7 linked regions of the Homo sapiens genome follow. The protein of the gene in region 4 purifies or fractionates together with the protein of the main gene of each other region. This does not show direct contact. Each region holds a gene or a part of one and is shown on either strand. Other genes may lie near its edges. The genes, in order: MAGOH, CHORDC1, ZC3H11A, SARNP, TIMM44, TAGLN and ACIN1.

Region 1 (3,835 bases), on a different chromosome or scaffold from region 4:
AAAAATCCACCCTCAGTACTTACTAAAGTTAACTTTAATTTATGTTCAAGGGAGCTCAGTAATATCATATATATGTATTTTGCTTTACCACTTATAAAATTTTTATTTCTATTAACTCGTTCTACCATCACAACAATTCTGTAAAGAGGGAAGGGCATATTCCTTTGTACCAGCAATAAGCCATTGGATACTGTAATTAAAATCAATTCCATTAATAATTGCAAGAAGAGTTATAAAGAACTTGGGAATGCATTTAACAAGATGTACAAAACTTGAAAGGGCTTTATAGAAGGACAAAAATATGTATCGTTTTTGTGGATGGCAAGATTCAGTATCATAAAGATGTCAGTTTTCAACAAAGTAATTTATAAATTCACTCTTAATTCAAATAAAAATCGCAGTAGGATTTTTTTCCCTTTAGAATCAAATAGAATGAGCATTAAATTCATGGAAAATCAGAGGCAAGAGTAGCCAAAATAATACTGGAAATTTCTTACAAAGCTGTGGTCATTTGTAGTATGATATTGCCTCGGGAATTGACAGCTAAACCAATGGAACAGAATAGAGAGCCCAGAAACCAACCTATGAATATATGGAAACTTAGAAAAGTGTGCTACAGAGGTGGACTTTCACATTAATGGGAAAAGAACGAATTATTTAACAAATTGTACCAGGACAGCTGACAATGTATTTATGGAATATTTTTAAAATTAGGCCATAGAAATCAAAAATTTTAAACAGAATATAGACTTGTATTATTTCTGGGTAGAGAAGGAGTTTTTAAAACTCCTTAAGGGGTAAGATTGGTAAATTTGACTTCTTTACAACTTAGGTTTGACAAAAGATGGCAAGATAAAGTTGAAAGATAAGCCATAGACTGGAAGAAGTTATCTGCAAAACATAAAACTGGCAAGAGTTCTCCATCCAGAATATATAAAGAATTACAAATTAATAAAAAGACTGTCCCGTGGCAGAATGTGCAAAGGTTATGAATAGATAACTTACAAGATCAAACAAGTGGCTAATATGAAAAGATTTACGGCTTCATTTGTAAAATGAAAGGACAACAGTGAGATACCATTTCAGACCCATTAGAATAAAAACAGAAAAAAATCTGCCGAATTTAAAAAATGATATGAGAAAAGAGTGAGAATAAAATTAGTATAACCGCGTTAGGGAGTAATTTTGTGGCATCTGGCAGCATTTAAAATACTAGGAATTATATGGAGACATATTCACATGTACAAGGAGATGTATAGAAGAATATTCTTGCTACATTGTTTATAGGAATAAAAATTTAAAACTTAAGTTTATTTCAGTAGGGAAATGGAATACCACAAGCATTTAAAACTAATGAGCTAGATCTGTGTAACTCAACATTGATAAATCTCGAAAACAATGTGGAATGAAAAATGTAAAAAGTATGTATAATAAGACCATTTTGTAAAAATTTTAAAGCACACTACCACGTCTAGGCCAGGTGCAGTGACTCATGCCTGCATTCCCAGCACTTTTGTTCTTAATTGGGAGGCCAAGGTGGGAGGATGACTTGAGGCCAGGAGCTCAAGACCAGCCTGAGCACAGTGAGACCTTTTTTTCTACAAAGAAAAAAAAAAAAACCCTAAAAATTAACTGGGCGTGGTGGCGCATACCTGTAGTCCTAGCTATTCGAGAAGCTAAAGGTGCAGTATAGCATGAGCCCAGGAGCTCAGGGTTACAGTGAGCTATGATCCTACTACTATACTTCAGCTTCAGTGACAGAGTGAGATCCTGTATCTAAAAAGAAATAAGTAAAAACATACTACCAAATCTGAAACAAGAGTGGAACAAATCGGGATACAGGAGGGAGAACAGAATGGGAGATGGACATAAACTTTGTAATATTTTACTTCTTTTTTAAAAAAAATCTGACACAAGTATGGCAATAATTTATAAATCTGAGTATTGGAAACATCTCAGTTTTTTCGATTTTCTGATTGAATTATAACAAAAAGGATATATGAATCAAAAAGAAGAAAAAGTAAATAGGCCTCACAAGAATATGAATTCCACAGGGCAGAGATCTTTGGTTTGCTTGGTTTTACTTATCTGTCCAAAGCACTGAGAACAATAGCCAGCACCCAGTAGGCTACACATAGATACTTTTTGAAGGTTATGGTACTCATGTCACTGTTTGGAAATTGAGATCCAACATCATACATGTAGGGAGTGACAAAGTGGGGATCAAACCTAAGGTCTGGAAGTTGCCTAGATAGATTAGATTCTTTGGTTTTTGTTTTTGTTTGTTGTTGTTGGAGACAGGGTCTCACTCTGTTGCCCAAGCTGGAGTACAGTGATGAGATCATGGCTCACTGCAGCCTTGACCTCCTGGGGTGAAGGAATCCTCCCACCTCAGCCTCTCTAGTAGCTGGGACCACGGATGCACACCACCACACCCAGCTAGTTTTCGTATTTTTTGTACAGATGAGGTTTAGCCAAGTTGCCCAGACAGGTCTTAAACTCCTGGGCTCAAGTGATTCTCCTGCATTGGCCTCCCAAACTGCTGGGATTACAGGTATGAGTCACCACACCCAGTCCAATTGTTTGGTATTTTTAAAACATAGGTGTATTCATGTTACTCCACATTGTTGACAATGAAAACTCATACAAAATACTACATAGGCTGGGCGCAGTGGCTTATACCTATAATCCCAGCACTTGAGAGGCTGAGGCAGGCGGATCACCTGAGGTCAGGAGTTCGAGACCAGCCTGGCCAACATGGCGAAACCCTGTCTCTATTAAAAATACAAAAAAATCCATCCTGGCTAACACGGTGAAACCCCGTCTCTACTAAAAATACAAAAAAAATTAGCCGGGCGTGGTGGCGGGCACCTGTAGTCCCAGCCACTCAGGAAGCTGAGGCAGGAGAATCGCTTGAACCTGGGAGGCGGAGGTTGCAGTGAGCCGAGATCATGCCAGTGCACTCCAGCCTGGGCAACAGAGTGAGACTCTGTCTCAGGAAAAAAAAAAAAAAAACCTACATAGATTTTTCCAAATCTGAGAAATGGTAGGGCCTTAAGGGTACAACTTCTTCTAAATATGAGCTGTATTTATCTCTTGTTTCTAGTGCCCAGCACAGTTTAGTGCTCAGAGTGAACTGCCCTTGTTTTTGTGGCCATCTGTAGTCAAGTTTGTGTGATTTGGCAAATGATTAATCCTTCTGTGTGCTTGATGAATAATCCAATTCTACTTGACTTCGATTTTCTAAAATGTTTCTAGGAGCTTGAAATCGTCATTGGAGATGAACACATTTCTTTTACAACATCAAAAATTGGTTCCCTTATTGATGTCAATCAATCCAAGTAAGTGTGCATGATCCTTATATCCAGTTGTGTCTGTTTTGGAGCAGATTGATAAGAAACCTTAACCAAATTGGGACCATTATGGGAAGAGCTGGGGCAAATGCAAAATGCAGGTGGGCAGCTTTGTCCTTCTTGTTAGGGAGGAACCCCAAATTATTTTTGAGGACTTGCTCCTATTACTTTTGGTGTTTCATTCAGCCATTGCTACTGCGAGCTTCTTGTTGACACACACATATAGATTAATGCATAGGAGCAGCCAGAAGAAAAAATGGAATATGCCAAAAAAGTGCTCATGATAAACTGTAGAGTCACCGAGTCTGAATAGCTTTCTCAGTGTGACTGTTGAGACTGGCACATCTTAAAATCTGACTTCAGTGAAACTTGACATTTTTTAGGATCTAAGTTTTATTTTATTATAAATTTATTATTATTATTATTTTGAGATGGAGTCTCCCACTGTCACCCGGACTGGAGTGCAGTGGCGCAATCTCAGC
Region 2 (3,395 bases), on a different chromosome or scaffold from region 4:
CCAATACTGTATTGTTTCATATGAGAAAAGCCACTGACAAAAAAGAATAACTGGCTTCAAGTTTCATATTGAGAACTAAGTACTATATTACTTGATAAATCTACTACAGTATCTCCAGAATGGTTCAGCAGTAAGTCTACTATACAGAAATTTTCATTTAAAATAGTTTCATAGAAGTAATTTAATTTTTTTTAATGGGAGTCATTATAAAATCTTACCCCCAAATCAGCTGAGATATAAACAATACTTTAAAATACAGTAACATAAAGAATGATGTATAGAAAAGAACTTTTACCCAAAATTATAAGATGTACTTACCAATGTGCTATTTGCTTCTACTCGGCTAAGTTCTGGAAGTGAGTTTTTAGCATATACTGAAATGGTAACTTCACCTCCAGTCTGATGCCAGTCATGTCTACATGGAACAACTTTTTTCCCCTGTAATGTAAGAGAAACTCTGTAAGTTAAAAAAGTGCCACATAATTAATTTCTTAAAAAGAGGAATTTGACCCATCTGAGAAAAAACTACCATGCACAACAACTAAGCACTTAATGTTTAAGGGCAAAAAACTTCTATATTTCCCAAGAGGCTTAAACAAGAAAATATATCATGGTACAAAGATTCTTCATAAATTTTATGATTTCAGAACACACTTACTCCTTCCCTTTGTTTTTTTCTTTCAGGGCCATAATATTGATACACAGCTAAAAAGACAATTTAAGAACTCCTACTAAATTTAATCCAATTTAACATTCTGTAACCTACTAAGTACTGTCATCAAAACATTCTTTGAAGACTGAAATGAAAGACATTTGTTTACTGGGATAAATCAGACAACACCTTAACCTCATGCACTAGAAACCTTATTTATTTTCTACAAATCAGAATCTAAGAAAAAAATCTGACCAGTTATTACTTTCTTCCCATTTTAATAAAGAACAAATGATTTTTGGATTTTCTGATTATGAAAATAATCCTTACATACCAGTAGTATACTATACTGCCCTACCAGTATTTTTTTTTATAGAGGCAAATGATGATTTGTTATATAAATGAGAACAATTTAGTTACATAATTCAGGAAACTGAGACACTACTGTTGTAAAAGGTACTATTTTCGTTTTGATAAAATTACATTAACTAAATTTAAATTATATATATCACTCACATTTTTCCCCTTAGCTACTAGCTTAGATACTTAATACTTGATAACTGCATACATTAAAAAACAAGAGAAATTACATCATTTTATCTAGGATTATACTCCCAAACTTAACATAATGGAAAACAACATTTTATTTTTTCAAACTAAAATTTTCAAACTTTTGGACTATAAAAAATACACTCTTTTTATTTAAAAACATTTCTGATAGTTTTGTGGTAGATGAATTTTTATAACTTCAGGGTATTTTTATAATATCCAACCATGTGTTATTAAAAAGCAACTAGGGCCAGGCGCGGTGGCTCACGCCTATAATCCCAGCACTTTTGGAGGTCGAGGCGGGTGGATCACGAGGTCAGGAGTCCAAGACCAGCCTAGCCAAGATGGTGAAAACCTGTCTCTATTAAATATACAAAAAAATTAGCTGGGCGTGGTGGTACGCACCTGTAGTCCCAGCTACTAGGGAGGCTGAGGCAGGATAACTGCTTGAACCCGGGAGGCGGAGGTTGCAGTGAGCCTGCACTGCACGTCTGGGCGACAGAGCGAGACTCTGTCTCAAGAAAAAAAAAAGTGGGGGAGGGGCAGCAACTACAGAAGACTAAAATATTGAAATCTCTAAATTAATTTGAAAATTTAATACATTATAAAATACATTAACAATAGCTAACAGACAAAAACTTATTGAGCAATAAGTTGCTCATCCTCTCACAATTTAATGGGGTTTTGGGAAATTATTTGCATAGCCCCCAAGTCTTTTTAAAAAGCTGTCCAGGGAAGTAGGAAATGATGCTTTTTTCCCCCCTTTTGATAAATATCCCATTAGCAAGCAGAGGCATTCAAAACAATTCCACTGAAACAAGACTGCAATCCTCCTCTCTGGCCACTAGATGGAGTGTTTGTGCATCTGTAAATGATTGAAGTTTTAAGTGGCCAAAAGAATAACAGAGGTCTAAACGTTTAACGTCATCAAATTCATAGAAAAGTAATTTTTAAAAAACAAAAAGTAGGAAGAGGCCATGGAGCTAATTTTATTAATTAAAGAAGACAAAAATTCTTCAATTTTGTCAGGCTTAAGTATTTCACAAAACCTCACATGCTTGCATCAAAACAGACAATGGCTATTTTGCTCAAAAGGCAGTACACTGGCAGCTTGACTCAGATTCATTTTATTTCGTAGTCACATCAAAGCTCTATGGTGCAAAAAAGAAAACTTTTTTTTAAAATCTAAAGACAGAATAATTTCAAATCTTTAAAAAATGACTCAGATGAATATAAACCCAGTGTGCTATTTTTGGAAGAGTTACTTACAGCATCTTTTTTAGTCCACATGTGTTTCCCTTTTGTACAGCCCTCTTGGGCTAAGAATGTATTAAAATCAGAAGTTTTTCTTCTACAACAGCTCCAGTATTTCATCCTTTAAATTATCACAGAAAAACTTCAGAAATAAAATCTCACAACCAATTAAATCCACAAGTATTTTAGGGATAAATCTGATTTTTAATAAGCCAGTAAGTGTACAAACTCTAGCATTTTACAAGTGTCTAAGTTACTAAAAATGAATGTACAGTATATCAGGAAGAATGTGGAAACAGAGTGGAAGATTTTTACACAGTGCTGCATTTCTATAAACTAGAGCATAATACAGAAGAGAGGCTCTCAACTGCAGGATGCGGAAAAGTATGGGTCGTCTTGGGATAATGTTGTCTTAGTGCCCCAGGGCCCAAAATTCTAAATGCCCTGCAATGTGTAGGACAGTCCTTCAAACAAAACATTTAGCCCAAATAGCATCACTTTTAAATACAGAATATGAAGAAAAACAGGCAGTTTATATCACAATGACCACTTAAGAACTGTAACCTTGTTTCTGTTTTCTCATGTATAAACACACAACATACAAACCCCTGTGTTTGTGTAGGCTATTGTGAAGATGTTAATGGCAATGTAAGTAAAATGCCTAATAACACTGCATGGCAAACAATGTTTAAAGACAGAAAGGTTTAACTTTCTAAATTCTACCATAAACTATTTTAATAAGTCATGCATAAGTTACCCCTCATGGAAAATAGGTACTCCAGAATGATATACACAGACTTCTTCTAGACTCTCTAGACCCTGGTATGTCTAAAAAGGAAACAAAGAGAAAAAAAATTAGCTGCGTATCTTACAGTTACATCTCATACATATTTGCAGTATTGGTGACCTCTACGAACTTTGCAAAATACTTAAATGACAA
Region 3 (3,835 bases), on a different chromosome or scaffold from region 4:
AAAGAAAAGATATACACAAAACTTATCTTACCTGCTGAAAATTTTCGTTTCCCCAGTCTCTCAGTAAGACTCAATCTAACCAAGGGTTCTTCTCCTGAAATGGCAAAAGCAGAATTTCTCTATCCTTAGTCAATTTTTCTGTATTCAGTAACTACTAATGGGTACAAAGTATGTTCTGATATTAGTGTAAATCCACCCAGAAAGTCTCTTGAAAATCAGGTCTCAGTCTTAAGGAAGGCCATTATATCAAAAAAAAAAAAAAAAAACCCAAACCTATTAATAATAAACAGCCAAACATACAGCCTAAACAGAAGCAATAGCATAGTACTAATTATTATTATTATTTTGATAATAATAATAGACTCTTGCTCTGTCACTCAGGCTGGAGTGCAGTGGTGCCATCTTGGCTCATTGCAACTTCCACCTCCTGGGTTCAAGCAATTCTCCTGTCTCAGCCTCCCAAGTAGCTGGGACTACTGCGCACACTACCACACCTGGTGTTTTTTTTTTTTTTTTTTTTGAGACAGAGTCTCACTCTGTCGCCCAGGCTAGAGTGCAGTGGCCCGATCTCGGCTCACTGCAACCTCCACCTCCCGGGTTCAAGCGATTCTCCTGCCTCAGCCTGAGTAGCTGGGATTACAGGCGTGCACCACCATGCCCAGCTAAATTTTGTATTTTTAGTAGAGACAAGGTTTCACCGCGTTGGTCGGGCTGGTCTCGAATTTCTGACCTTGTGATCTGCCCGCCTCGGCCTCCCAAAGTGCCGGGATTACAGGCGTGAGCCACCACACCCAGCCTAATTTTTGTATTTTTAGTAGAGACAGGGTTTCACCATGTTGGCCAGGCTGGTCTTGAACTCCTGGCCTCAAGCGATCCGCCCGCCTCAGCCTCCCAAAGTGCTGGGATTATACATGTAAGCCACTGCGCACAGCCTAGAATAGTACTAATTATTAATAGCAGTCGAGTATAAGACAGATTGTATTCTTAACCAATTGGTTATAAAGCTGAAACTATCCTTTTGCTTATGCACTTTGATATGTTGAATGAAACTGTACTCTACTCCGATGTTAACTGTCCAATATAACTATCTCTGATCACCTCAGGAAGAAGTGAGCTCTCTTTCTTCTAATTCTTTGTTGTTTGAATTGCACAAACATTTAAATATATCTATATCTATAATTCCTTATTAGGCTTAAAATTATTAAGTGAAAATACTTCGTTACAGGCCGGGTGTGGTGGCTAACACCTATAATCCCAGCAATTTGGGAGGCTGAGGCAGGCAGATGATTTGAGGCCAGCAGTTCAAGACCAGTGTGGCCAACATGGTGAAACCCCGTTTCTACCAAAAATACAAAAATTAGCCAGGCGTGGTGGCGGGTGCCTATAATCCCAGCTACTGGGGAGGCTGAAGCAGGAGAATCACTTGAACCTGGGAGGCGGAGGTTGCAGTGAGTGGAGATCGCACCATTGCACTTTAGCCTGGGCGACAGAGCAAGACTCCATCTAAAAAAAAAAAAAATTAATGGCCAAGAACGGTGGCTCACACCTGTAATCCCAGCACTTCGGGAGGCCAAGGCGGGCGGATCACCTGAGGTCGGGAGTTTGAGACCAGCCAGACCAACATGGAGAAACCCCGTCTCTACTAAAAATACAAAAAAATCAGCCGGGCTTGGTGGCACATGCCTATAATCCCAACTACTTGGGAGGCCGAGACACGAAAATTGCTTGAACCCAGAAGACGGAGGCTGCGGTGAGCTGAGATCATGCCATTGCACTCCAGCCTAGGCAACAGGAGTGCAACTCTGTCTCAAAGAAATAAATAAAAAACTTTATTATATATACCTATTATTCTTTAGTCACATGGGAAGCCAATAAATGTATTGAGTGGATATAAACAGTAAATGGAAAAATATATGTGAGGGCTGCTTGACAAAGAATTTCAACCTTTTAAATATTAGAGTTGAATGTACCAACTTTTCATCTTTAGATTATCTCATCAGCATACTAACAAATTCCTGAAAATTCATCAAAGGTAAAAGATACCCAAGGATTTTGCATTCCCAATTATATAAAAGTAGAGGCTTGACAACTCTAAGACCTATCTATACCTTACCTTGTTTGGTGGAGAGAGTTACTGTCCTCACCACAGTCCTGACATTTTCTTTTTCAGGACCTGGAACGGGCTCAGGGTGGAGTAAAAGACTGGAAACTCCTGAAGAACCCTCTGAATAAGGCAAGTCAAAGAACAGCAAATAATTTATGGAAAATAATGCTATCCCAAGTCAAAAAATTTGTTTTTGTAACCAGTTAAGTCCAATACAGACTGATATTATGACTATAAGCCAATCAGCCTTTCTGTATCTGTTTGCCTACAGTCAAATGGAGTAGTGGTGAGGGGAGCCTTGGGCATGATGTGAAAACAAAATATAAAATTATTTTGAGTGACTTAGGCACCCAAACTACTTTTATTTACCAATAAGGCTAATATTTACCAATAAAGCTAGTATTATTCTAAAATTAACCTCAGAGGTACACTAGCCATCAGGTGTATCAATCCAACCTATTCTATTTAATCATCTGAAAACACAACTCCAAGGTTGCTATAAAGCAAGCCTTAAAAGAAGGTTTTTAGAACCATTTCTCTCTATATATACTACACTTCACACTATAAATTTTAAGGCTGGGGGCTGGGCGCAGTGGATTACCTGAGGTTGGGAGTTCGAGACCAGCCCAACCAACATGGAGAAACCCTGTCTTTACCAAAAATACAAAATTACCCAGGCGTGGTGGCGCATGCCTGTAATCCCAGCTACTCAGGAGGCTGAGGCAGCAGAATAGCTTGAACTGGGAGGTGGAGGTTGTGGTGAGCAAAGATTGCGCCATTGCACTCCAGCCTGGCAACAAAAGCAAAACTCTGTCTCAAAAAAAAAAAAAAAAAAAAAAAAAAAAAAAAAAAAAATTGGGGGTTGGAAATACAGAGCAATCAGGCTGACGTAAGCTCCAGAAGAAAATCCTAGCAGCTCTTGAGGAAGAACTCTTCTACTAGAAAATGACGTTTTTCCTTTTTTTTCTTTTTTGAGACAGAGTCTTGATCTGTCGCCAGGCTGGAATACAATGGTGCGATCTCAGCTCACTGCAACCTCTGCCTCCTGGGTTCAAGCAATTCTCATGCCTCAGCCTCCCGAGTAGCTGGGACTACAGGTGCATGCCACCCCGCCTGGCTAATTTTTTGTTTTAGTAGAGACGGGGTTTCACCATGTTGGCCAGGATGGTCTGGATCTCCCAACCTCATGATTCGCCCTCCTCGGCCTCCCAAAGTGCTGGGATTACAGGCGTGAGCCACCACGCCCAGCCTTTCCTCTCTTAATATAATTTCTTTTTAACCACTATAAGAACTTACAGAATTAATATAGTTCTTATATGATGTTCTTCAGAGCTATATTTTTCAAGATATACAAGTTCTTTCAGATTCTTTATTGTACCCAGCTCTGAAAAGTTAGGGACTGAAACACAGCTGCAGTGAATTAAAAGCAACCACAATTTAAATAAGTCTGTGTTTTACTTCAAACAGGCCATGGAAATGAAAATCTATTTGCTCATTTTGGCTGTTGCTTCTAGAAGCGTCCTTAGTATTCTTCCCTAGCAACATACAACTATCCATGCCAAAACGTGATGACTTACCACCTTGCTTCTTAGATTTTTCCTTCATTTTCTTTGACTTAATTTCCTCAAGAGTTTTTATTCCAAAATTCAAACATTCACCTGAAAATTCAAATAGAAATTTTATGAGGAACGGGAGCCTTTTCATCTTTGTATTTTATCTGTACATAGCAGG
Region 4 (3,835 bases):
GGATTACAGGCATGAGCCACCACACCTGGCCAAGCTGTGTGATATTTAAGCAAGTTATTGAATTTCTTTAAGCCTAATTGTAATACCAACCACTTAGGTTCCTTGTAAGGATTTTGAGTTCCCATCATATATGTTATAGGTGGTCTAAAACATCTCTGCCTTCAAAGAATTTACAAACTATATGTTGACATAACATGAAAAAGATGATTTCTTTTTTTTTTTTTGGGATGGAGTCTCGCTCTGTCACCCAGGCTGGAGTGCAGTGGCGTGGTCTTGGCTTGGCTCACTGCAACCTCTGCCTCCCGGGCTCAAGCCCTTCTCCTGCCTCAGCCTCCCGAGTAGCTGGGATTACAGGTGCCTGCCACCACGTCTGGCTAATTTTTGTATTTTTAGTAGAGACAGAGTTTCACCATGTTGGCCAGGCTGGTCTTGAACTCCTGACCTCAGGTGATCCGCCCGCCTCGGACTCCCAAAGTGTTGGGATTACAGGCGTGAGCCACCGCGCCTGGCCAACGTGAAAAAGATTTCTGATAAAATATTTTAATCAAAATTTGGCCGGGTGTGGTAGCTCATGCCTGTAATCCCAGCCCTTTGAGAGGCCGAGGCGGGAAGATCACCTGAGGTCAGGAGTTCAAGACCAGCCTGACCAACATGGTGAAATCCCATCTCTTCTAAAAAATACAAAATTAGCTGGGCATGGTGGTGCACGCCTGTAATTCCAGCTACTGGAGAGGCTGAAGCAGGAGAATCGCTTGAACTGGAGAGACGGAGGTTGCAGTGAGCCGAGATTGTGCCACTGTACTCCAGCCTGAGTGACAAGAGTGAAACTGAGTCTCAAAAAAAAAAAAAAAAAATTCAAGGTCAGTTAACTAGAAGAAATCACAGGGCAAGCTGGGCACAGTGGCTCACGCCTATAATCCTAACCAACACTTTGGGAGGCTGAGGCAGGAGGATCACTTGAGCCCAGGAGTTTAAGAACAGCCTGGGCAACATAGTGAGACCTCATCTCTACTGGAAATAAAAAAATTAGCTGGCTGTGGTGGCACACACCTGTGGTCCCAGCTATACAGGAGGCTGAGGCAGGAGGATCATTTGAACCCAGGAGGTCGAGGCTGCAGTGAGCTGCGATTGCACTGCTGCATTCCAGTCTGGGCAACAGAGCAAAACCCTGAGTCAAAATAAAAATAAATAGAAATCACAGGGCAATGCATGATTAATGTCAAATGTATGATGAGGGTAAGTTGATATGTCTTTTCTCTGTGGGTTGGATAGGTAGAATGGAGAATGCTTTATTGATACTGAAAAATAAGATTTAAAAAACTTTTTGAATAGGTAATCATGCACAAGTTCACAAAAGAGTATATGGTAAAAAGTTTCTTTCCTACACTTTTCCCAAACTAGCTTCCTCTTCTCAGATTCAACCAGTGTTAACTTACCTGTTTCTTCTCCAGGCATCTTGTTTATACACATTATACAGAGATGTGTGTGTATTATTTTTTACATTAATGTTAGTATCCTTATAGAATGTTCTATAACTCTTTTCTTTTTTTTTTTTGTTTTTTGAGACAGGGTCTCCCTTCTGTCGCCCAGGCTGGAGTGCAGTGGTGTGATCATGGCTTACTGCAGCCTCAACCTCCTGGACTCAAGTGATGCCCCTGCCTTAGCCTCCCGAGTAGCTAGGACTACAAGTGTGCCTGGCTAGTTTTTTGTTTTTTGAGAGACAGGGTCTCACTGTGTTGCCCAGGCTGGTCTTGAACTCCTAGGCTCAAGTGATCCTCCTGCGTCGACCTCCCAAAGTACTAGGATGACAGATGTGAATCACTGTGCCTACCTAGCTGGTTTTTTTTGTTTATTTTCTTCTTGGGACAGGGTCTTACTGTGTTGCCCAGGCTGGAGTGCAGTGGCATGATCATGGCTCATTGCAGCCTCAGCCTCCCAGACCCAAGTGATCTTTCCATCTCAGCCACCTGAGTAGCTGGGACTGTAGGCACATGCGACTATGCTCGGCTAATTTTTTTTTTTCAATAGCCTTACTGAGATACAATTCACGTACCATACAATTCATTCAGTATACTTGTTAAAATATTTTTTGTTTGTTTTGAGATAGGGTCTCCCTTTGTTACCCAGGCTGGAGTGCAGTGGCATGATCTCGGCTCACTGCAGCCTCGACTTCCTGGACTCAGGCCATCCTCCAGCTTTAGCCCCTCAAGTAGCTGGGACTACAGGCACATGCCACCATGCCTGGCTGTTTTTGTATTTTTAGTAGAGATGGGATTTCAACATATTGTCCAGGCTGGTCTCGAACTCCTGGACTCAAGTGATCTGCCCACCTCTAGCCTCCCAAAGTGTTGGAGCCAAAACATTTCAAATCAAATCAAATCAATTTAGAAAAATGGGATAAGATTTTATGTTAGTTCCTATTTTAAGTTTTAAAAGGTTTTAGTTCTGCTAATGTAATTGTGCTGAAATACGTGCAAAAAGAAATTACATCATTTTCAGCTGTTTTATGTTTTTATTCATCTGTTTCTCATTCATTCATTCTTTTGAGGCCAGGTATTGCTGTGTTGCCCAGGCTGGAGTACAGTGGTGTGATCACAGTTCATAGCAGCCTTGACCTCCCAGGTTCAAGCGTTCCTCCCACCTCAGCTTCCCTAGTAGCTGGGACCACAGGCGTGTGCTACCTTGTGTGACTAATTAAAAAAAAAATTTGGCTGGGCGTGGTGGCTCATGTCTGTAATCCCAGCACTTTGGGAGGCCGAGGCGGGTGGATCACCTGAGGTCGAGAGTTCGAGACTAGCCTGACCAACATGGGAAAACACTAAATTAGCCAGGCATGGTGGCGCGTGTGTGTAATCCCAGCTACTCGGGAGGCTGAGGCAGAATTGCTTGAACTCGGGAGGTGGAGGTTGCGGTGAGCCAAGATCACGCCATTGCACTCCAGCCTGGGCAGCAAGAGTGAAACTCCATCTCAAAAAAAAAAAAATTGTAGGAACAGGGTCTCACTCTGTTGCCCAGGCTGTTCTTGAACTCCGGGGCTCAAAGCTGTCCTCCTGCCTCAGCCTTCCAACTTGCAGGGACTACAGGCATGAGCCACCATGCCCAGCCTCTATTTTCCTTTTAAAATAATGTCTATTTTCCTTTTAAAATAACGTCCTAGTATATGAGAAGAACTCACTATATAACAAAAGAAGTAATACAACTATGTAAAAGCTGTGTGTAGGCTGGGCACAGTGGCTCACGCCTCACTACAAATGATATATGTAAATGTTAAGTGATCTGTAAGTGCTGGGATTACATACGACTTTTATTTTCCTCTAAACTTTTCAGAATTTTCTAACTATTCTACAGTGAACATAATACTTTTATAACAAACAAAAAATTTAAAGTGTAATTAAGATCAAAAGACTTGTTCTCCAGGAAGTGGGAAGAAAATAATGTATCAGTGTGAGAAAGATCAAGATTCTTAAAAAAAATTTTTTTTTTTTTTTTTTTGAGACAAAGTCTCGCTCTGTCACCCCGGTGGAAGTACAGTGGCACGATCTCGGCTCACTGCAAGCTCCGCCTCCCGGGTTCACGCCGTTCTCCTGCCTCAGCCTCCTGAGGAGCTGGGACTACAGGCGCCCGCCACCGCGCCCGGCTAATTTTTTTTTTTTTTTTTTGTATTTTTAGTAGAGACGGGGTTTCACCGTGCTAGCCAGGATGGTCTCTATCTCCTGACCTCATGATCCGCCTGCCTCGGCCTCTCAAAGTGCTGGGATTACAGGAGTGAGCCACCACGCCCGACCAAAAATTTTTTTTAATAGAGATGGCATCTCATGGTGTTTCCCAGGCTGGT
Region 5 (4,571 bases), on a different chromosome or scaffold from region 4:
TGAGGTCTGGTTGTGACAAGGTGACTCTGTACCAATGATCAAAGGGCTATCTTCTAGAAAAGGAAACAGCTATGCTTGGTGAGGTACCCACGGGCAGAGGTCACAGGGAAGTAGAATTCAGTTCAATACAGGGGTCTCTTCCAAGCATTAGAGCCAACATAAAGGGCTATTCTGACAGCACCTTATCCCCTTACGACATCAAGCAAGAGGCAGGTCAAGTGTTTCTGGGACCGAGAAGGCCAGGCACACTGGGATCTGTCATTCTGAAAGCCCCGGACACAGAAGGCCCACCACCGAGATGGTACGAGCCACCTCTACAGCCCCACCCCTCCCTCCTGCCAATGGGATCTGAATTTTCGGGCCTCCCCTGTGTCTGCTGGCCCGAGCATCCTGAGTCACTCACCAGTGGCAGCTCTCCGCCCGGCCGGCGCATCTGATAGGTCGACCCATGGGGTAGGTTGTGGCTGGAAAGAAATTGGATTCCACTGCCGAGGCATCTCTAATTGGGGGGAGAGAAGAGAAAGATCCATTCTAACAAGAGGTTGACTGAGAAGTAAGCAGACCACACACAAAACAGCAGGGTCACCTGCAACTCACTGGCCATTTTTTTTTTTTTTTTGAGACGGAGTCTCAGGCTAGAGTGCAGTGCTGCGATCTCAGCTCCCTGCAACCTATGCCTCCTGGGTTCAAGCGATTCTCCTGCCTCAGTCTCCCGAGTAGCTGGAATTACAGGTATGCGCCATCACATCCGGCTAATATTTGTATTTTTAGGAGAGAAGCGGTTTTGCCATGTTGGCCAGGCTGGTCTCGAACTCCTGACCTCAGGTGATCCACCCCTCCCCCGGTTTTCCAAAGTGCTGGGATTACAGGCATGAGCCACTGCACCTGGCCTCACTGGCCAATTTGTATCTTATGCCTGATGCATGCCGGGCACTCTGTAATCTTCCCAAAGTCTGAGAAGCAAGCAGAAGCTGGTGGAAAGAGAAAATGCTGTGTCTGTACCTCCAGGGCCTACATCTATCCTCGTGCCCCTGAAACTGGGGGAAAACGGACAGGTCCCAGGAAATGCCAACCCATGGGGGGAAGAAGGCTAAATGTACAATTTAATCCCTTAGTCTGAAAGTAGGCACTCTAAGCTTCTATGCTAGTGGCAAGCAGTCTTCTCTTGCGAGCCCACCCCATTTCTGCCAGCCTCCAAAGATGAGAGAACTGGATTTTTCAGACACAAACATCGATAATGTGTTGCCCCAGGGACAACTCTGGAATAAACCTACAATGTCCTCCTCAAGGGTTGAGCTATAAACAGAGTAATTTAGGGGAGTCGCTCTGGGCAAAGACTGGGCTGATCTCATGTAAAAGGCACTTGCTGGCTGGGCGCGGTGGCTCACGCCAGTAATCCCAACACGTTGGGAGGCTGAGGTGGGAGGATCACCCGGTCAGGAGTTCGAGATCAGCCTGGCCAACATGGTGAAATCCCGTCTCTACCAAAAATACAAAAATTAGCCGGGCGTGGTGGCACACACCTGTAGTCCCACACACCTGTAGTATTGCTTAAACCCGGGAGGTGGAGGGTGCAGTGAGCCGAGATCTTGCCTTAAGTTCTGTGCAGGCACTGAGCTGGTGGCTCATGCCTGTAATCCCGATACTTTGGGAGGCTGAGGCGGAAGGATCGTTTGAGCTCAGGAGTTTGAGACCAGCCTGGGCAACATAGCTAGACCCTGCCTCCATAAAAAATTGGGGGAAAAAAAAAAAGCTCTGTGCAGGTCCTGTTCAGCTCGGCACCCTGTCACCCAGCACAGAACCTGGCGTGTTGATGTCAAAAGACCAGGTACAACTTCTCCACCATTTCCACATTTCCTGGGCCGTTTTTCTCTCTGTTCTCTGCCTCCTACCTCTGAGAACCCTATGCAACATCCCAAACTTACACAGGTGCCTACTATCTCCTGTATTTACTTGAGGATAACTTTTTTTTTTTTTTTTGAGACGGAGTCTCCCTCTGTTGCCCAGGCTGGAGTAAAGTGGCAGGATCTCGGCTCACTGCAATCTCCGCCTGCCGGGTTCAAGTGATTCTCCTGCCTCAGCCTCCCAAGTAGTTGGGATTACAGGAGCGCGCCACCATGCCCGGCTAATTTTTTTGTATTTTTAGTACAGATGGGGTTTTAGTAGAGATGGGATTTCACCATGTGGGCCAGTGGATCTCGAACTCCTGACCTCAGGTGATCCACCTGAGGCTGAGGCAGGAGAATCGCTTGAACCCGGAGGCAGAAGGAGGCAGAAGTTGCAGTGAGCCGAGATCGCGCCATTGCACTCCAGACTGGGCGACAAGAGCGAAACTCTGTCTCAAAAAAAAAAAAAAAAGAGAAAAAAGAAAAAACGAAGAGCACGAGCAATATGAAGTACTACTTTCTGAGTGCGCCTTACACGTCTTGACTGCCACTGCCCTGTGGACCCAAGAGCCTGCTAGGGCGCGAACCACCTCTCGCACATCCACAATGAACGTTAGAAGAAACGAGACAAGAAATGCTCTCGGTAGAGAACTTGGCATTTAACCGCGAGCTGTGAATTTCACGTTTTTTTGCCTTCCCCTCTACTTTTTTCCACGGGACGCCGCCGCCCCGGCTACCATTCTCTCTCCTGTATACGTGGAGTCTGATCAGAGGGCGAAGGGTGATCAGCTCCCTCCCAGGTCCCGCGCATCGCCGCCCCCTGCCCGGTAAGCTCGGTCCCCGCCCTCAGGCCACGCTCTGTGCCCCCTGTCCTGGCCTCTGCTACCCAAAGATCTAACCCCAAGCTTTCTAAGGAGCCCAAGCAAGGGTCGCGAAGGCCAAGGGTCTGAGAAGAAAGCCTTGGTGGCCGAAGGCCCAGAAGACCCCTAAGCTCGCCCTGCCAGCGCCGCACCGCCGCTCACCCGTGGACAGCGGCACCAGCCACTCCGCAGGGCCGCCGCCGCCATGTTGGAGAATCGTGTGACCTTCTCGCGGCGCGGCCCGGTTGCGTCATCCGCCGCTTCGGCCTAGAGCCGCGCAAGCCTGAGAAAAGCCGCTCCAGGAGCGGGGTTTCGGGTAGGGAGAGCCCTCCGATTGGGTCCGTCATAGGGCGGGGCATTAAAAGGGTAGGGAATGCCTAGAGAGCTTGACCTCTGATAGGGCAGTGTTTTGGAAGGACGGGGCCCGTGACTGGATGTGGCCCGGGGGAGGGCACTCCTGGGAGGGTCAGATCTGTGATTGGGCGCGACTACGAGGGGGCGGAGCCCAGGGGCGTGTATTCCGTCACTTGCGGTGATTCGGCTACAGAACGCGCCGGGCGCTGGTGGCAGGTGGTACAGGCACGTGGATCCACCGACCACAAGGACGGATTCGATTGGATTCTGATTGACCGGCGGACCAGCTCCAGAGTAATTGTCTATGGCTGCCCCTGCAATGACTGATTGATTGACAATGGCTGAGAGACCAGCAAGTGAGTCGCTCCGAGAAAGCGAAGGAGCCCACTCTTGTGCGGCGCTTTGGGAAGACGCCTGTTGGTTTTGACCCCGAATAAGAAGAGGAAGCTGAGAGCGGGCTGACTGTGGTCCAGTCCTACTTCGATTCAGTGTGAACTGACACTCTGATCTGAAGACGCTCAGGCCTTTGTCATTTCAGCACCCCAGATGCTATTTTCCATTCGAAGAATGCCGCCACCAGGTGGCGGTATTTTAACATGGCCATGCAATCCGGGTATGAGGAGGAGGGTTGGTCCCCTGGGAGAGCTAATGTATGTTGCTGTTGCTGTTTGTCTTATTGGATCCTTTTTTTTTTTTATAGAGCCAGAGGCTTGCTCTGTCACCCAGGCTAGAGTGCAGTGTCGTAATCTAGCTCACTGCAGCCTCCAATTCCCAAGCTCAAGCGATCCTCCTGCCTCAGCCTCTGAGTCACTGGGATTACAGGCGTGAGCTACCGCACCCGGTCTTTTTGCATTACTAACCTGTGATATGGGTTTATGGGACTTCATTATTTCAAAGGGAGGCAGCTTGGCCCCGGAGAGCATGCATTCCTGGCTTCTGCGATGGATAGACTTGTGTTCTCCATCTCAGGAGCTCCCCCTCAAGGTGGGGGTAAGAGATGAGGGCTTCCACTCTGGCTTTGTTCGAGATGTCTTGATGCCAAGAGGAGCAAACTAGTTAAGCGGTTGGTGTACACAGGTGTGTTGCTAAGAATAAGGTCTGGGCTAGAAATATGGATTCTTAGTTGTGGTTGAAAGTACGGAGTTTGGCCGGGCGCGGTGGCTCATGCCTATAATCCCAGCACTTTGGGACACTGAGGCGGGAGGATCTCTCCAGCCCAAGAGTTTGAGACCAGCCTGGGCAACATAGTGAAGACCTCTTCTTTACAACAAATACAAAACATTAGCTTGGCGTGGTAGCATGTGCTTGTAGTCCCAGCTACTCAGGAGGCTGAGATGGGAGGATCGTTGAGGCCCGGGAAGTTAAGGCTGTAGTGAGCCGTGATCGTGCCACTACACTACACTACACTACACTACACTACCTGGGCAACAGAGAGAGACCTTGTGTCAAAAAAAAAGAAGAAGAAAGAAAG
Region 6 (4,495 bases), on a different chromosome or scaffold from region 4:
GCCACCAAAGCCCAAGAGTTCTTGGCAAAGAAGCTGCATTTCCTCAGAGAAATCAGAGACACCTGGTCTACCCATCGACTTCCCCTCATGCCCTTACGCTCTCGTAAGGCTACCCTTACGGAGTAGCCTGAGTAACCAAGAAGTCAGAGTCCCCCAGGGATCTTCCAGAGCCAAGAGTCTGCCTGCCAGGGAATGGGAAGCCTGGCCCCATCCAGCAACTGCCACCCTGAGGGCCTGGGCCTGGCACTGCTCAGGAGTCCCACTCATGGAGAGGGGTGGCAGCAGGAGTGGGCCAGGCAGGTAGGTCCCTGGGCAGACAGACAGGGGTGGCTGGGAACAGGAACAGGAAACTGACCTGTCCACTGATGTCACCCTAGGGTGCTGTGCCTTCTCTCCAGTGTTTGTCTGAAGAGACTTCCAAAAGAGGTACCAAAGGAAGCCGAACCCATCCCCTGGCCTCAGAGGGGTCAGAGGTTGGGAGGGACACGCTGGTCTGAGGATGGACGCAGGAGCGCACTCCCCCGGCTCCCTCTCTGGTGAGACCCCTCCCCACTGGCACCCCACCCGCGGGAAGCAGAGCCAACACTATCACACCCCACTGGTCCCAGGCCAGCTGCCCAGCCCGATGCCCTGCCCTTCCTTTCTCAGGGCTGACAGGCTTTCTGGGCTGGAGTTCCTCATCTGTGAAGTGGGGGTTATGTTACCAACCTCAGAGGGCTGTGAAAATGGGACGGTGTCTGTGAACTCCCTCACATACTGCCTGGCCCTTAGCAGAGCTCCTCGAAATGTCAGTTCTTTGCTGCCCGGAGCCAGGCTCCTGGTAATGACCAGGGAGAGAGCCTGCCCTTGACCAAGGAGTGAAAAACTGACCTCAAAATGTCAGTTCTTTGCTGCCCACTCCAGCCTCCACCCGCTTCTCACAATCATTCCCTGAGCGCGCAGCAGCTCACACGGAACAGAGTTCACACGGACTCATCGAAGTGCCCGTCATTGGGCATCCCTCTCCTCCTTGCGTCTGTTTCCTTATGTGTAAAGTGGGGGCAGGACCACTTCTGAGGACCCAGTTCTCTGAGCACTGGGGATGAGGTGGGCTCCTGGCCCAGCCACCCCTCTCCCTGCCAGTGATGCCAGAGACCCCAAAGGCAGAGTGCTCTGTTCTGCTGTTCAGCTACAAACAGCCAATCCCTCCCTTCACCCTGTGTGTCCCACCCCCGCTCCCCAACCACCCAAGGACTCCTGCACAAAGAACTGTGGTCCAAACCCCCAAGTCAGCTGGGACCAGGTGATTTTGGTAGCCCTGCATCCTGGCTTCCATCCACCCCAGCCTCTGTCTCAGCCTTTGCACCACCATCCCAGACAGGCATCCACCTTCTGTCTCTGGCCCTGCTTCTACCCCCACTCCACCTGCCCTCATGTCTGCCTTCCCCTTCTGCACCCCTGCTGGGCTCCTGAGGAACAGGATGGAAGGAGAGTGTGTCCCCTACCCCCAGCTTCCAGTCTCAGGAGGGTCAGAACAGACAATACAGGTCAAAGCAGCAAGGCTAAGGGTGACAGGTACACAACGCTGCAGCCCCCAGATCTAGAGACAAGATTAGGATTTCGGTCAGAGGGGGATGAAGCACACACCATCCCCACTCCCACCCAGCACCACCATCCTTCCCCTTCCTCCTCCTGGGTCAGGGTCGAAAAGTGGAGAATCCCCAGAAATCCTTTAGAGTCCTCTGATGAAGCCTCCCGAGTCCTGCCTTCGAGCCAGTGGGGAGGGGGAGAGGAGGATGATTACAGGGCGGCCCCCCCAGGGGCATCTCAAGACACTCCCAGGACAGCATGGACAGGCATGGACCCTCCTGCCCTGTGGCTCCTGCCAGGACCCCTCCCCTGAGCTGCCCAGTGGGTGAAAGTGGGCAGTGGAGAAAGAAAGTCCAGGGTCAAACGGGAAGGTGGCACCCCCTACCAGCAGAAGCCCAGAAACACGAGCAGAGCCAGGGGCCCCTGCAGGGCTGCTGTGCCCCTTCTCTCTTCCCAAATAGGAGTGAGCACACCTGGACCTCTGAGAGGGCAGGAGGGTGGCTCCTCTCCACTCCACGGACAAACAGGAGTGGCCTGGCTACATAAATGTGTGCCATCCTCACTGCTACCTTTGGAATAGCAACTTCGAAAGGGAACCACCCTTTGGGAAAGACCAAGGGTCCCAGGCCTGCCCCGCCTATCACTCCAAAGCTCCTCCTTGGCAGTACCCGCCCCCCACCCCTCTGCTACAGTGGGGGTGACCTCCCACTGTCAGACAGTGGAAGGGGCTGCTTGTCAGAAGGACAGGCCTTCCGTCTCCACTCTTTGCCCCTGACTGGAATACAAGAGTTCTGTGGCCCTTCACATTGTCACAGGGCTATCGCTGCTGCTCAGGCCCTGGGGACCCGCCAGAGTGGGACACCGTGCTCCAACACAGGTGCGTTCACACACTCCTCACCTCCTTGGAAGTTCTCCTGGAGGGGCAACAGACAGTAGAGCCTTGGCCTAACCGGCCGGCGCCTGCACCCTTACACACACCTTGTGGATGTGGCTGGCTGAGATGGGGAGCCTCCCTCTCACCCCGGTGGTTTCCATCAATTCCTCTGCACTAGCCAAGTCATCCGGGGCATTTCAATGAGCCCGGGGCTGCCCAGTCTGAGAGAGATCCAGGACGCTAGTGATCCAGCCCACCCTGCCTGGAGCTTGGGCCCCCATGCTGACTGAGAGGGTGGGTTTCCCTAGCCAGGGAGCTGGAGCTGGCGCCTGGGACCTCAGGAGAGCCTGCCTGAAATGCACCCACTGCTCCTGTCCAGCTCCAGCCCAACTTCCCTCCAAGCCCCAGCCAATGCACTCACAAGGCTTCCTCAGGGCTCGCAGGAAGGAGTGAAGACTTGTGTCTGGGTTCGGACAGACAGGATGGGGCGCTGGCTGGGTGAGGGGTTTAAAGGGCTGCCGCCGTGGTGATGTCAGCCTCCCCCACTGGCTCGCTCCTCGGCCCCCTCCCTGCTAGAGGAAGCCGGCTCCGCTCCCCACCCCCGGCTCCCCCAGTGACTCCACACAGGCTCCATATTTGGGGAAAGACACCAAGTTGGAGCAGTCTACCGGGGCTGCCGAGACATTCTCTGCATGCTTTGGAGATGGAGCGGGCCGGGGCGGGGCACGCTGCCGGCGGGGAGCCGGCCCGGGAAAAGCCTTTTATGGACAGGACCCTGCCCGGACTTACGGCTGCTCCTACTTCACTGTTCTCTGGCCCCGAGTTTGAGAAGAGGGGGAGTTCAATAGAGTCTGGCTGGAGAGAGGGGCAAGGGGCTGGGGAGCCGGGAATCCCAGGGGTTTGTGGGGACAAACCAGCCACCCTCTCCTCCTGGGGCTTTTAGCTCTGATGGGACATGGGATCCAACCTTTCCTGAGGACCTACTCCACACCAGGCCCTTTGCAGTGCTCTCATTGAATACTCACAGCTACAGTGTGAGGGTGTAATTACATCCCCATTTTATAGATGAGGAAACTGAGGCCCCGAGTGCGTCTTCCTCAAGGCCACATGGTGAATGGTAAGTGGCAGATCCTGCACACCTCTGCCAACCCGCATGGGTGCAGGAGAGGTGGTCAGACCCACCCTTTCAATTGGACCACCCTGCTCAGGTTGAGAAGAGCTTTCAGTGCAGGTAGGTCTTGAGTTATATGCTTTAGTTGGGGCTGGGATTTGAGGGTTCGGCAGAAGCTGAGTCCAACTCCGGTCCCCATCCAGTGGGCAGTGTCAATAAGAGGGTCTATAAGGCCTGGCAGGGCCTGAGACACTAACGCAGGAGAAGGAGGCTCAGGAGGCTGGTATCATCCCTTCCTCCCTTTAGGAACAGTCCCTACCAGCCTGGAAAACAGACCAGCCTCTGTCACTCCAGAGATAACCCACTCTCATCTTGCTCGTACCTGGCTTCAGGGATCTTGGGGAGAGATAAGAGGTTAAAAAAGGTGAGACTAACAGTGGGATCCCTGGACTGACTGCTGTGGCACTCCCCTGCAAGGGCATCTGGTAGGGAAGACCTAACACTCTCCACTACACACACACTGCCACACCCGGCACCACCCCTAGCCAAACAAGGCCCTAGGAGGGGGCTGCCAGGCCTGGCAGAGGAGGGGCCCGCCTCCGCAGTTCTGCCCACTGCAACTGGACATGCTCCAGAGCCCAGGGGAGGCACAGCCATAGCACCTCCCAGTGGCGCCTGCAGGAAAAGCAGGAAGAGGAGTGGGCCCTGGCGAGGGGAAAGCCCACTCCTCCATCCCTGACCCTGCAGACCTCTGGTTGTGTTCTGAATTCAACAGATTCCTTGGCCCCCAAATCATGTCCTCCTTAGCCGACTGAAGTCTAAATGAATCTTTCAGGGACATATCAAAACTCCCTCCTCTTGGAGCCTGCCCAGCTTTCATCACCCTCCTGCCTCGGCCTGCACGCTGAGCGGATTATAAACGCCGCATCAGGGAGCACTGC
Region 7 (3,835 bases), on a different chromosome or scaffold from region 4:
TTCTCTAGCCTTTTGGAAAATTTCTTTCCCACCATTAAATGTCTCCTAAAAAATCTATTTCCATGAAGAGTCTATCGCTGCTCAGCCTTTTAACTAAAATCAAGTGTAGTCCATGAAGGAATTCTGTATTAATCAGAAGAGCTGGAAACCTCCATACATCCTAAAAACACTGATTATGGTGGATTCCGCATCCCCCTCAACACTAATTATTCAAAATACTTGTTAAGTTACACATTGGTTTAACATATGTACTAACAATCCACATGTCTTATATACATATTAAGTATCCCTTTTCCAAAATGCTTGGGATCACAAGTGTTTTAGATTTTGGATTTTTGAATATTTGCATTATACTTTCTGATTCAGCATCCCTAATCTGAAAACCCAAAATCTGAAATGCTCTGATGAGCATTTCCTTTGAGTGTCATGTGAATACTCAAAAAGTTTTGGGTCTTTGGATTAGGCATGCTCAACCTGCACATATTTTCCTCAAAGTATACTGACTTAGACAGGTAGTTCCCAAAAGACAAAGGCTATATTTATAGACTTTTGCTTGAGATATTATGCAAAATTGGGTGCCTATTATGATTTTATGTATTTTTTGAGACACAGTCTCGCTCTATTGTCCAGGCTGAAGTGCAATGGTGCAATCTTGGCTCACTGCAACCTCTGCCTCCCGGGTTCAAGCGATTCTCCTGCCTTAGCCTCCCGAGTCACTGGGATTACAGGTGCCTGCCACCATACCCAGCTAATTTTTATATTTTTAGTAGAGACAGGGTTTTGCCATGGCTTTTTCACGGTTTTTCCAGGCTGGTCTGGAACTCCTGACCTCAGGTGATCCTCCTGCCTCAGCCTCCCAAAGTGCTGGGATTAGAGGCGTGAGCGACCACACCCAGTCTGGGTGCTTAATATTTTCTATAATGTGAAGAAATTAATTAATCTTGCCTGAACCAATCCCATATACTAGGTTAGAGCTCCCTACTATAATATGCTCACATAATACTCTGCGTTGCCTTGCACAGTAGCCAAAACAACTGTAACTAATGTCCATGTCCTCACTAGACTAAGTTTCTTGGGGCTGAGACTTGTTTCTTTCTTTACTATATTCCTCGTGCCTAGCATGTGCCTGGTATACAACAAGTACACAATAAAAATTTGTTGATTAAACCACAGCAGATACCCAACTCCAGAGGGTGACTGAATGTGTTAACACGTAATATACACAACTGGTGAAGAGATGAAAAAGAGCTGACTGTTGCCAAATTCAGAGGTAGAAGAGTTGAAGAGGTACAGATGAGAAGAAAAATCACACTGCTTCGTAAAACACTGAGAAGGTAACACAATATATAGGTGAAAGCAGACTTCAAAAAGGGTATACTTTCCATGAGAAACAGATGTCAAATATCAATGTCACAGAATTTCCCTGGGACTTTCATGGAGGCTTAGCATGAAAGGAGGTGTAACTACCTCCCCCCACCAACTACGCAGGATTGACAAAACAGCGCAGTGGGGAGGGAGATACGTACTGGGCGAATGTCTGCTGAGCTCCAGCTCTGGTCTCTCCAGGCTGCTCTGAAAGTCAGGAGGCAGCAGGGAAGCCACTCCCTCAGGATGGATCATCTCGTCCTCCGACTCAGCTGAAGCTTCTGCAAAGTACAGATCGGGTCGGGGCAGGGAGGGAGTGAAGGACTCAGCATGTAGGAATATGTAGAGGAGTGAAGGAGGTCAGGCAAAGTCACAGATACAGAGATACATACCAAAAAGAGCACCGTATAAAAAGAAAAAACTCCCTGGGATTCAGCTCTACTTCATCTAAATGGTAGCTTAATTTACTTATAACTCTTCCTGTTGGCAGGAATCCTCTTCTAACAAGACAGTCAAATTAAGTGTCCTCTTCCCTGACAAAAGTAAATAGTAAACCACTTGGCTTCATGGGCTATGAAAGCAAGTAAGTAGCAGTCTCAGCCTCACTTATTTCTGAAATTGTCTAGTTAGACAGGCCTATCTACTTGGTGACAGGGATAAGAATGACGAACTCCTTGTTAAAAGTGACAATCTGGGCTTACCTTCAAGTTCTGCAGCTTCTCGAGCTTCACGTTCCAGACGCTGCCTAAGTAGCTCCTGCTGCTTTTCCAGATACTGTTTTATGAAACTGTTCTGGCTCATTTCCTCACCAATCTGTGTAGAGGAAATGAAAACAGAGGGTCTAGGAAAACAAACCAGGAGAATGCAAAGAAGAACATTCCATGGAGCAAAGGTCCACTCCTTATAGTTGCGCCCAAGAAAGATAACTAAAATGTTGGAAGGCTTTTTTCTAAGTTAGTTCTATATTGAAGAACAGAATAGCCTTGAGTCACACACAAAAAAAGGGCAAAAAGAAGAGCTGCACATAAGTTTTTGATTTAAATATTCAGTTCCCAAAGAGTGATACTGGTATACAAATTACTATTCTTTATTTTTATTTTTTGAGACAGAGTTTCACTCTGTTGCCCAGGCTGGAGTGCAGTGGCGTGATCTTCCCTCACTGCAACCTCTGCCTCCTGGCTTCAAATGATTCTCCTGCCTCAGCCTCCTGAGTAGCTGGGATTACAGGTGTGCACCACCACACTCGGCTGATTTTTGTATTTTTAGTAGAGACGGGGTTTCACTATGTTGGTCAGACGGGTCTCAAACTCCTGACCTCAAGTGATCCACCCGCCTCAGCCTCCCAAAGTGCTGGGATTACAAGTGTGAGCCACCGTGCCCAGCCACAAATAACCTTAAATTAAAATTCCTGTAATTATATCTTTTAGGCTAAATTCCTAGATTACGTGGAACATTATCTAAAGGGTAATCTAAAATTTCCTTTTGGTAGTATCAAGACTGAAACATGGGGGCTCACGTCTGTAATCCCAGTACTTTGGGAGGCTGAAGTGGGAAGACTGCTTGAGCTCAGGAGTTCAAGATCAGTCTCAGCAACATGGCAAAACCCGTCTCTACCAAAAATACAAAAAGGTGGGCATATTGTGGTGTGAGTCTGTCATCCTGGCTACTCAGGAGGTGGTGGGTGCAGTGAACTGAGATCGTGCCACTGCACTCCAGCCTGGGTTAAAGAGCAAGACTCCATCTCAAGAAAAAAAAAAAAAAAAGCCAGTTCCTCCAAAAGATCAACCGTTACCTATCCAGGAAACATTTTTTTTTTTTTTTTTGAGACGGACTATCACTGTCATCCAGGCTGGAGAGCAATGGCGCGATCTTGGCTTGCTGCAACCTCCGCCTCCTGGGTTCAAGACATTCTCCTGCCTCAGTCTCCTGAGTAGCTGGGATTACAGACATGTGCCACCACAACCAGCTCATTTTTGCATTTTTAGTATAGACGGGGTTTTGCCATGTTGGCCAGGCTGGTCTCAAACTCCTGACCTCAGGTGATCTACCCGCCTTGGCCTCCCAAAGTGCTAGCATTACAGGCGTGAGCCACAATGCCCGGCCTCATATCCAGGAAACATTTTATCAAACAACTCCAAAATTCAAGTATAGTATTTAAAAGTATGAAATCAAGAGACTAAGAAAAGGGATATCCATTCAGCATTTAGACAAAGTTATAACTCCATTTTGTCTGGGTGAAAGGAAATCCTTGGTAACAGGAGCTTATGCCTTTTCCTATTTTTTTTTTTTTGTAATACAGATTCCCAAGTTGCCCTTCTGACCTCCAGCTTTCTCTTCACAAGTTCTCCTCCCTAGAACCTTCTTGCTTAGCAAGTCCTATTTAGAACTGAAAAAGCAAAAAAACCTGAATACTTTCTATGTTATTAGTCATGTTTCCTAAACATAGTAAAGGTTTATTTTCACCTAAAGT

The links.
Region 1: the proteins of SARNP (region 4) and MAGOH purify together in Homo sapiens (affinity purification with mass spectrometry; 2 studies listed by BioGRID and IntAct, with this or other methods). This does not show direct contact.
Region 2: the proteins of SARNP (region 4) and CHORDC1 purify together in Homo sapiens (affinity purification with mass spectrometry, with the first as the bait; one large-scale study listed by BioGRID). This does not show direct contact.
Region 3: the proteins of SARNP (region 4) and ZC3H11A purify together in Homo sapiens (affinity purification with mass spectrometry; 4 studies listed by BioGRID and IntAct, with this or other methods). This does not show direct contact.
Region 5: the proteins of SARNP (region 4) and TIMM44 fractionate together in Homo sapiens (co-fractionation; one large-scale study listed by BioGRID). This does not show direct contact.
Region 6: the proteins of SARNP (region 4) and TAGLN purify together in Homo sapiens (co-immunoprecipitation; 2 studies listed by BioGRID and IntAct, with this or other methods). This does not show direct contact.
Region 7: the proteins of SARNP (region 4) and ACIN1 purify together in Homo sapiens (affinity purification with mass spectrometry; 2 studies listed by BioGRID and IntAct, with this or other methods). This does not show direct contact.

Annotation. Positions count from the first base shown.
Region 1 is NC_000001.11:53,228,378-53,232,212, reverse strand, and holds part of MAGOH (protein mago nashi homolog), read left to right. Parts: intron 1-3,258; coding exon 3,259-3,341; intron 3,342-3,835. UniProt on the Homo sapiens protein: Required for pre-mRNA splicing as component of the spliceosome. Plays a redundant role with MAGOHB as core component of the exon junction complex (EJC) and in the nonsense-mediated decay (NMD) pathway.
Region 2 is NC_000011.10:90,202,990-90,206,384, forward strand, and holds part of CHORDC1 (cysteine and histidine-rich domain-containing protein 1), read right to left. Parts: intron 3,284-3,395; coding exon 3,213-3,283; exon of another isoform or gene 3,212-3,212; intron 2,577-3,211; coding exon 2,471-2,576; intron 439-2,470; coding exon 319-438; intron 1-318. UniProt on the Homo sapiens protein: Regulates centrosome duplication, probably by inhibiting the kinase activity of ROCK2. Proposed to act as co-chaperone for HSP90. May play a role in the regulation of NOD1 via a HSP90 chaperone complex. In vitro, has intrinsic chaperone activity.
Region 3 is NC_000001.11:203,830,050-203,833,884, reverse strand, and holds part of ZC3H11A (zinc finger CCCH domain-containing protein 11A), read right to left. Parts: intron 3,763-3,835; coding exon 3,682-3,762; intron 2,225-3,681; coding exon 2,114-2,224; intron 95-2,113; coding exon 32-94; intron 1-31. UniProt on the Homo sapiens protein: Through its association with TREX complex components, may participate in the export and post-transcriptional coordination of selected mRNA transcripts, including those required to maintain the metabolic processes in embryonic cells.
Region 4 is NC_000012.12:55,807,471-55,811,305, reverse strand, and holds part of SARNP (SAP domain-containing ribonucleoprotein), read left to right. Parts: intron 1-3,835. UniProt on the Homo sapiens protein: Binds both single-stranded and double-stranded DNA with higher affinity for the single-stranded form. Specifically binds to scaffold/matrix attachment region DNA. Also binds single-stranded RNA. Enhances RNA unwinding activity of DDX39A.
Region 5 is NC_000019.10:7,940,699-7,945,269, forward strand, and holds the start of TIMM44 (mitochondrial import inner membrane translocase subunit TIM44), read right to left. Parts: upstream 2,969-4,571; 5' UTR 2,954-2,968; coding exon 2,909-2,953; intron 500-2,908; coding exon 404-499; intron 1-403. UniProt on the Homo sapiens protein: Essential component of the PAM complex, a complex required for the translocation of transit peptide-containing proteins from the inner membrane into the mitochondrial matrix in an ATP-dependent manner.
Region 6 is NC_000011.10:117,197,802-117,202,296, reverse strand, and holds the start of TAGLN (transgelin), read right to left. Parts: upstream 2,928-4,495; 5' UTR 2,865-2,927; exon of another isoform or gene 2,468-2,864; intron 2,447-2,467; exon of another isoform or gene 2,385-2,446; intron 537-2,384; exon of another isoform or gene 383-536; intron 1-382. UniProt on the Homo sapiens protein: Actin cross-linking/gelling protein. Involved in calcium interactions and contractile properties of the cell that may contribute to replicative senescence.
Region 7 is NC_000014.9:23,088,456-23,092,290, forward strand, and holds part of ACIN1 (apoptotic chromatin condensation inducer in the nucleus), read right to left. Parts: intron 2,179-3,835; coding exon 2,067-2,178; intron 1,647-2,066; coding exon 1,527-1,646; intron 1-1,526.